Homo sapiens: one gene and its partner. The protein of the gene in region 1 interacts with the protein of each later gene in a pairwise test. Each region holds a gene or a part of one and is shown on either strand. Other genes may lie near its edges. The genes, in order: PDZD8 and ITSN1.

What was found.
Region 2: the proteins of PDZD8 (region 1) and ITSN1 interact in a two-hybrid assay, tested with the Homo sapiens proteins (one large-scale study listed by BioGRID and IntAct).

What each region holds. Positions count from the first base shown.
Region 1 is NC_000010.11:117,288,144-117,291,969, forward strand, and holds part of PDZD8 (PDZ domain-containing protein 8), read right to left. Parts: intron 2,206-3,826; coding exon 2,043-2,205; intron 1-2,042. UniProt on the Homo sapiens protein: Molecular tethering protein that connects endoplasmic reticulum and mitochondria membranes. PDZD8-dependent endoplasmic reticulum-mitochondria membrane tethering is essential for endoplasmic reticulum-mitochondria Ca(2+) transfer.
Region 2 is NC_000021.9:33,774,811-33,778,636, forward strand, and holds part of ITSN1 (intersectin-1), read left to right. Parts: coding exon 1-68; intron 69-157; coding exon 158-298; intron 299-3,826. UniProt on the Homo sapiens protein: Adapter protein that provides a link between the endocytic membrane traffic and the actin assembly machinery. Acts as a guanine nucleotide exchange factor (GEF) for CDC42, and thereby stimulates actin nucleation mediated by WASL and the ARP2/3 complex.

The DNA of each region.
Region 1 (3,826 bases):
ACAGTAAAATGAATTCCATTTTGAGCTTCAAATATAATATTTTGCCAATCTTATTTCAACTATCATCAATTATATACCCATATAAATGAATCAAAGCGATATAAAAATGTTTTGAAAAATATCTGTTGACATGGGGAAAGTTTACAACATGCTAAAAGAAATAAAGACTATTACAAAAATGCATAGTTTAGAAATTTTTGTTTCCTAAACAAAAATTGGGAAAGGCATATATTTATGTACAGAAAAAAACAAACAAACAAAAAAACAAAAAAAGAGACATACAAAAGCTTTTCTGTTATGTTCCAAGGTTTTTCTTTTTTTTAAAACAATGAATGTGTATTGTATCTGCCCTTCATCTTAATACATATTATTATTATTATTTGAGATGGAGTTTCGCTCTTGTTGCCCAGGCTGGAGTGCAATGGTATGATCTCAGCTCACTGCAACCTCTGCCTCCCAGGTTCAAGCAATTCTCCTGCCTCAGCCTCCTGAGTAGCTGGGATTACAGGCGCCTGCCACCATGCCCAGCTAATTTTCATATTTTCAGTAGAGATGGGTTTCACCATGTTGGCCAGGCTGGTCTCGAACTCCTGACCTCAGGTGATCCACCCGCCTCGGCCTCCCAAAGTGCTGGGATTACAGGCATGAGCCACTGAGCCCGGCCTGTTGTTATTGTAATTAACAAATGTTAGATGTCAAGGGATGACTTTTGCTTTTTCACTCTGTATACATTTATATCGCTTAGGTTAATTAATTTATTTTTGATAATAGGTATTTACTACTTGTGTAATTGAAACACAACCCCCAAAAAAGACCGAAAAAATTAATTTTATCCTGTAGCTAAAACCAAAATATTAAATGATATTAATATAATGAATGATGTCTATTTTATGCCTCCCTAAGTGTTTATGCATAAGCATCATCATTTGGGAGGAGTCTGTGAGAAATGAAGAATCTTGGGCCTCACTACAGGTCTCCTGATTCAGAATGCACATTTTAACATCAGGTCTGGGTGACTGGCATACATGGGAAAGTCTGAGAAGCACTGCTTATGCCATGATCAGAGATTCCCATGTGAAAATATTGACTTAATTGGGCTCCCAGATATGCAACTAAATAATTTTCATTATTTTATTGTCAAGGTGGATTTGAATCAAAGGCAGAGTTTCTTTGACATGTAACCAAGGACAACTGCACCTTGATTTGGGAACTGTTCTAACTTATTTATTGTCTAAGCTGTGAAAGAAAATATCACATTGCCCTTTTCAGATCAACTGTGACCAACCATATGTTCAAGAAATCTCTCAACAAGCCTAGAATAGATGGGACAGGTACTACAAAGGTTGAAAAGGCTTGGACTTTCCCCTCACTGCTGTGCACAGTGAGTCCTACTGCTTAGACATTTATATACAAGCAAATAACCTGCTATCTTCAGAGAGTTTTTACTGTTAACAATCCAAGTGATAGGAAGGCATGTAAGTGACACATTTTTCCACCAGTGATTTGGGCTGAATTCTGAGCAACAACATACTAACAAATGGCTGGCCATTTAGATGACACAGGATCACAGGACAGTTCAGATGTGCCCTCCTGGAAAAGGAATGTTGGTTCTTCTGCTCATCATCTAGTGCTAAGTGATGGGGGCAGTAGTGCTAATACTACCAATTTTAGGTTCAGAGTAGCAATGGTGGTAGTCGTACAGAAAGATAACCTGTTTATTTGCCCTTACTTTCACATTCAAGAAAAAATAAATAGAGTAGTAGAAGGTGGGAAGGGAAGGATTAGAGTGGTTATATAAAAGTGGTCTAAACAAAGTATTTTAAAGATTTATACACTAGAACTAAAATGGCATGTATGTTTTAAATGTATTTTGAAGGCCTCCTTTGAATTTTTATTTATAATAAAGTTTATTACTTTATTTCCATTATAAAAGTGACATATGCATATTATAGAAATAAGGAAAAAGGAAGAAAGGAAAAACCTCACACCTACTTTGTAGTTTATCTGTAAAGGTAAAGTATAATGCATATTAGCATAATTACCTCCAATGGCGATAAGTCGATCTCCCCGCTGAAGATCTGCAATTGCAGCAGGCGAGTTTGGAGCCACAGTTTCAATGATGACGTGCCCAGCATACCCATCAGTTGACTGGACAAGACGAAGTGTAAGTCCAACACTTTGTAAATTTCCTTTTATTAATTCAACCTTTGATAAAGGGGAAAAAAATGAAAACTGATTCAATGGATTCCTAGTAATAGAGGAAAAAAACAGTAACAGACTGTTATGTGCAGAGAGCACCATGGCTGATGCTGACTTTTCTATCATGGCAAATAAAGGAAGGAGAAAATCTTTACTGTAACAATATAAATTAACTATCCTTAGGCTACACATTTAAATCATCAAAAAAATTAAACACTTTATCTTCAATGTGTTTTATTATTACTCCTTGCTCCATGCTCATTGTAGAAAATTGGGAAATAAACAGAAAGGCAAAATAAAAAGAAAACCATTCCTAATTATACAATCTAGAACTATTCTATATATTTTCTAATATATATTTAACACAAAATTGAGATTTGTCTCAATAATACTGAGACATAGTAGTCAATACAATTATAATCATGAATATAATTCTGAATCTTGCTTTTTTCAAATATAATGAAAATGATCTATGTCATTCATAATATGTGCTTTGGAAACTCCATTTTGTATGGTGTATCCTTTTTTTTTTTTTTTTTTTTTTTGAGACAGGGTCTCACTCTGTCACCTAGGCTGGAATGCAGTGGCACAATCCTGGCTCACTGCAACCTCCACCTCCCAGGCGCAAGTGATTCTCTCACCTCAGCCTCCCAAGCAGCTGGGACTACAGGCGTGCACCACTACGCCTGGCAAGTTTTTGTATTTTTTTGTGTAGAGATCGGGTTTCACCACTGTTGCCCAGGCTGGTCTCAAACTTCTGGGCTCAAGTGATCCGCCCACCTCAGCCTCCCAAAGTGCTAGGATTAAAGGCGTGAGCCATCCCACCCGGCCAGTGTATTCTTCAAGTTTCTTTTTTGGGAATAGGCAAAGGAAAAGAGTTTACATTTATACTTTATTAAGAGTTATCGGCCGGGCACAGTGGTTCACGCCTGTAATCCCAGCACTTGGGAGGCCGAGGTGGGCGGATCAGGAGGTCAGGAGATTAAGACAATCCTGGCTAACACGGTGAAACCCCGTCTCTACTAAAAATACAAAAAATTAGCCAGGCGTGGTGGCAGTGCCTGTAGTCCCAGCTACTCGGGAGCCTGAGGCAGGAGAATGGCATGAACCCGGGAGGCAGAGGTTGAAGTGAGCTGAGATCACACCACTGCACTCCAGCCCGGGCAACAAAGCGAGACTCCACCTCAGAAAAAAAAAAAGAGTTATCATGTGGTGGGGATGATGGGGATGGTGGTGCACACCTGTAATCGCAGCTACTAAGGAGGGCTGAGGTGGGAGGACCATTTGAGCCCAGGAGTTCAAGACCAACCTGGGCAACATGGTGAGACCCCATCTTTATTTAAAAAAAAAAAGTTACATTGTTAATGAGATGTCCTATTCTAACCCATCAAGATCATTTTGTTTTCTAAATAAACCTGCCATCCAATTTTCAGGAATGTGGATACTAGATTAACATCATCTGTGAATTAACAACAACATCATCATGCTATGTGTCCTCATTCAAACAACTGATTTAAAAAAAAAAAACAGGCAGAGTGCTACATCCCAGCTGTTGACAAGGATTCAATTAGTGTTTATGGCGCTCAATTACAAATCAGTCTAATTGTATTATTCTCCAGTCCACATT
Region 2 (3,826 bases), on another chromosome or scaffold:
AAGAACAAGAGGACATAGTTGTACTGAAAGCAAAGAAAAAGACTTTGGAATTTGAATTAGAAGCTCTAGTGAGTGAAGTTTGGTTATACTTTGAAAATATACTAAGATGGAACCATTAAAAACAGTAATAATTTTTATTATCTTTCATTTGTTCAAGAATGATAAAAAGCATCAACTAGAAGGGAAACTTCAAGATATCAGATGTCGATTGACCACCCAAAGGCAAGAAATTGAGAGCACAAACAAATCTAGAGAGTTGAGAATTGCCGAAATCACCCATCTACAGCAACAATTACAGGTGAGGAAATATGCCTCTTAAAAGCTATTATATTAAACTGGCATCCTTTTCTCTAATTCATTTCATTTACTTACTTATTCAGTAAACATTAAGCAACTGTCTTGTACTAGGCACTGGGAAGCAAAAATGAAGTAGACAGGGTCCTTGTGTGAAAAGTAGCCTGTCAAGGAGACAAACTCAGCAAATATTTACTGAGCACTGCTTCGGGCCAGGTGCTTTTGCAGTTTCTGAGGCTACAGCAGGGACAGACACTCTGTCTTCTGGGAGCTTACCCTCTGTTTGCAGGAGGAACAGAGACTAACAAAATAAAGTGTGTACTGTATTAGAAGATGAAAAGTGCTATGGAGAGTGAGTAGGGAAGGGAATAGAGAGTCCTAGGGATAGGAAATGTTGTGATTTTAACTAAGGTAGCCAAGACAGGTCTTTCTGGATGGTGACATTTGAGCAGAGACTTGAAATTAATGACAGGCTAAGCCATGTGGGTATCTGGCAGAGCAAGATCTAGGCAGGGAAATAGTGCCAAAGTCCTGAGGTCGTAGCAGGACTCTGAGATGCCAGTTACAGCAAGGAGACTACTGGGTAGAGCAGGTGGGAGCTGGATCACACAGAACCTGTAGTCCACCAACAGGACTTTGGCTTTACTGTGGTAATTACAATAAATAAGTACACTTAAGTATTTTAGGGGGTCATATGAGAGCTATATGTATACTAAATAGTTGGAGACATACAGAGCACTTTTAGTAGTTCTGTCTTCATTTTAAAGCCTATCCAAAGTTGTTATAATATCACCTGGTTTGGTATCAAGTGCTGAACTACAGGGGCATCAAATTCATGTAAATATTGCCTGTGGATGATCATATTTGCCTGTGATTCCTTTATGTTAGGCTTTTTCTCAGCATGATGTTTTTGAGATGTGTCCATGTTACTGAGTGAATGACTCTTTTGTTTCTTTTCATCACTGAGTAGTGTTTCCTTATGTGTCCATTCACCTACTGGTTGATATTCAGGTTCTTTCCAGTGTGGAACTTTTATGAATAAAACTGCAGTGAGCATTTATGTACAAGTCTTTATGTGGAAATGGTTTATTTCTCTTGGGTAAACTTTTAGGAATGGAACTACTGTGTCATGTAAGTGTATATTTAACCCCATAAGAAACTGTCAGGCTGGGCACAGTGGGTCACACCTGTAAACCCAATACTTTGAGAGGGCAAGGTAAGAGGATTGCTTGAGCTCAGGAGTTTGAGACCAGCCTGGGAAACATAGCAAGACCCCATCTCTAAAAAAAAAAAAAAAAAACTTAAAAATTAGCTGGCATGGGGGCGTTCACCTGTAGTACCTGCCTGAGGCAGGAAGACCACTTGAGCCCACGATATCGAGGCTGCAGTGAGCTATGATTGAGCCACTGACTGCCTGGGCCACAGAATGAGACCCTGTTCAAAAAAAAAAAAAAAAAGAGAGAGAAAAGAGAAAGGAAAGAAAGAGAACTGACAAACTGCAAAGAGTTTGTACCATTTTACATTCTGATCATTTAATTTGTATTTCCCTGAAGGCTAATGATGTTGGGAATCATCTTACATGTTTATTGGCGAGTATTTTTTACTGTGCATCTTCGTTGAAGTGTCTGAACAAATCTTTTGCCCATTTTTTATTGGGCTGTTTGTCTTACTATTTACTTGTAAAAGTTCTTTTTATATTCTTAACAAGTCCTTTGTCAGATACGTGTTTTGCAAATATTTTCTCCCAATCTGGCTTGGGTTTAATTTTTGTTAGTGGTATTTTTTAAAGGGCAGAAGTTTTAAATTTTGATGAAGTTCAGTTTACCGTTTTTTTTCTTTTGGTGTTCATGCTTTTTATGTTCTATCTGAGAAATCTTTGACTACCCCATGACTGCAAATATTTTATTTTCTTCTAGAAGTTTTTGGGGCTTAAAAAAATAATTTTTACAAGTTTTTATAAATTGAAAAAAACTTAAAATTTTAAGTTTCATAGTTGTATCTTATATGTTTAGGTCTATGAGCTATTTCAAGTTGATTTTTGCAGATAGTATAAGGTAAAGGTTGAGGTTTATATTTTTACATACTGATACACAGTTGTTATAGCACCATTTATTAAAAACACTGGCTTTTTTCCCATTGAGTTACCTTGGTAGCTTGTTGAAAATCAGTTGAACATATTTGTAATGGTCTATTCTGGACTCTATTCTGTTCTTTTGATCTGTCTGTCCTTTACCAGTACCTCACCCTGTTGATACCTAATTTTTGAAGTCAAGTGATACGAATTCTCTGTTATTGTTCTTTTTAGAATTGTTTTTGGTTATTCCAGGTCCTTAACATTTCCATGTACATTTTAGAATCAGCTTATCAGTTTTTACAAAAATGCTTGGAATTTTGTTGGAATTCCATTGAATTTATAAATCAATTTGGGAAGATTTGACATCTCAGCAATAGTAAATCTATGGCATAAATCTCTATTTTGGTAGTTATAAATTTCTCTCAGCAATGTTTTGTAGTTTGCAGTGTCCAAGTCTTGTAGATACTTTGTAAAGTTTATCCCTAAGTATTTTGTGGCTTTTGATGCTATTGTATATTGCATATTTTTATTTTAGTTTCCAGTTGTTTGGTGCCAGTATATGGAAATAGAATTTATTTTTGTATATTGACCTTATATCTGTGATTGCTTAACTAACTTCCTTTGTGTGTCTTACTTTGTTGACCAGAACCTCCCATACTATATTGGATAGAAGTGGGAAGAGCCTTGTTCCCTCTCGATGAAGGAAAGCTCTCTCACCATAGAGTATAGTGTTAACCAGGGTTCTTGTAAACACCTTTTATCAGGTTGATGGACTTCTCCTTTTGCTGAGGGTTTTTATGATGAATGGGTGTTGAAATAGATCATATGTTTTTTCCCCGCATCTATTGAGATAAGTATGTGTTTTTTCTTTCTTATTTTGTTAATATGATGAAGTACATGGTTGCCATTTGAATGTTAAATCAGCCTTCCATTCTTGGGATAAACCACTCTTGGTCATGGTATATTACCCTTTATTAAAATATTTCACTACATTCCATTTCCCATTATTTTATTAAGGATCTTTTTAAATCTGTTGAATTCAATTCAACAGAGATATTGGTTTTTAGTGTTCTTCTAATATTCTTGTCTAGTTTTGATATCAGGGTAATGCTGGCCTCAGAAAATGAGTTGGAAAATATTCCTTCCTCCTCTATTTTCTAAAAGTGTTTGTGTTGAAATAGCATTTCTTCTTTAAATTTTGGTGGCATTCACCAGTGAAGGCCTCTGGGCCTGGAGCTTTCTTGAAGACTTAATTATAAAATTCATTATGCAGATATAGGGCTATTCTGATTTTCTTCTTCTCCTTGAATCTGTTTTGATTATCTGTCAATGAACTTGTTTATATTATCTAAATTATTAAATTTACTTGTATAAAGTTGTTTATAATATTCTCTTTTTTTTTTTTTTTTTTTTTTTTTGAGACGGAGTCTCGCTCTGTCGCCCAGGCTGGAGTGCAGT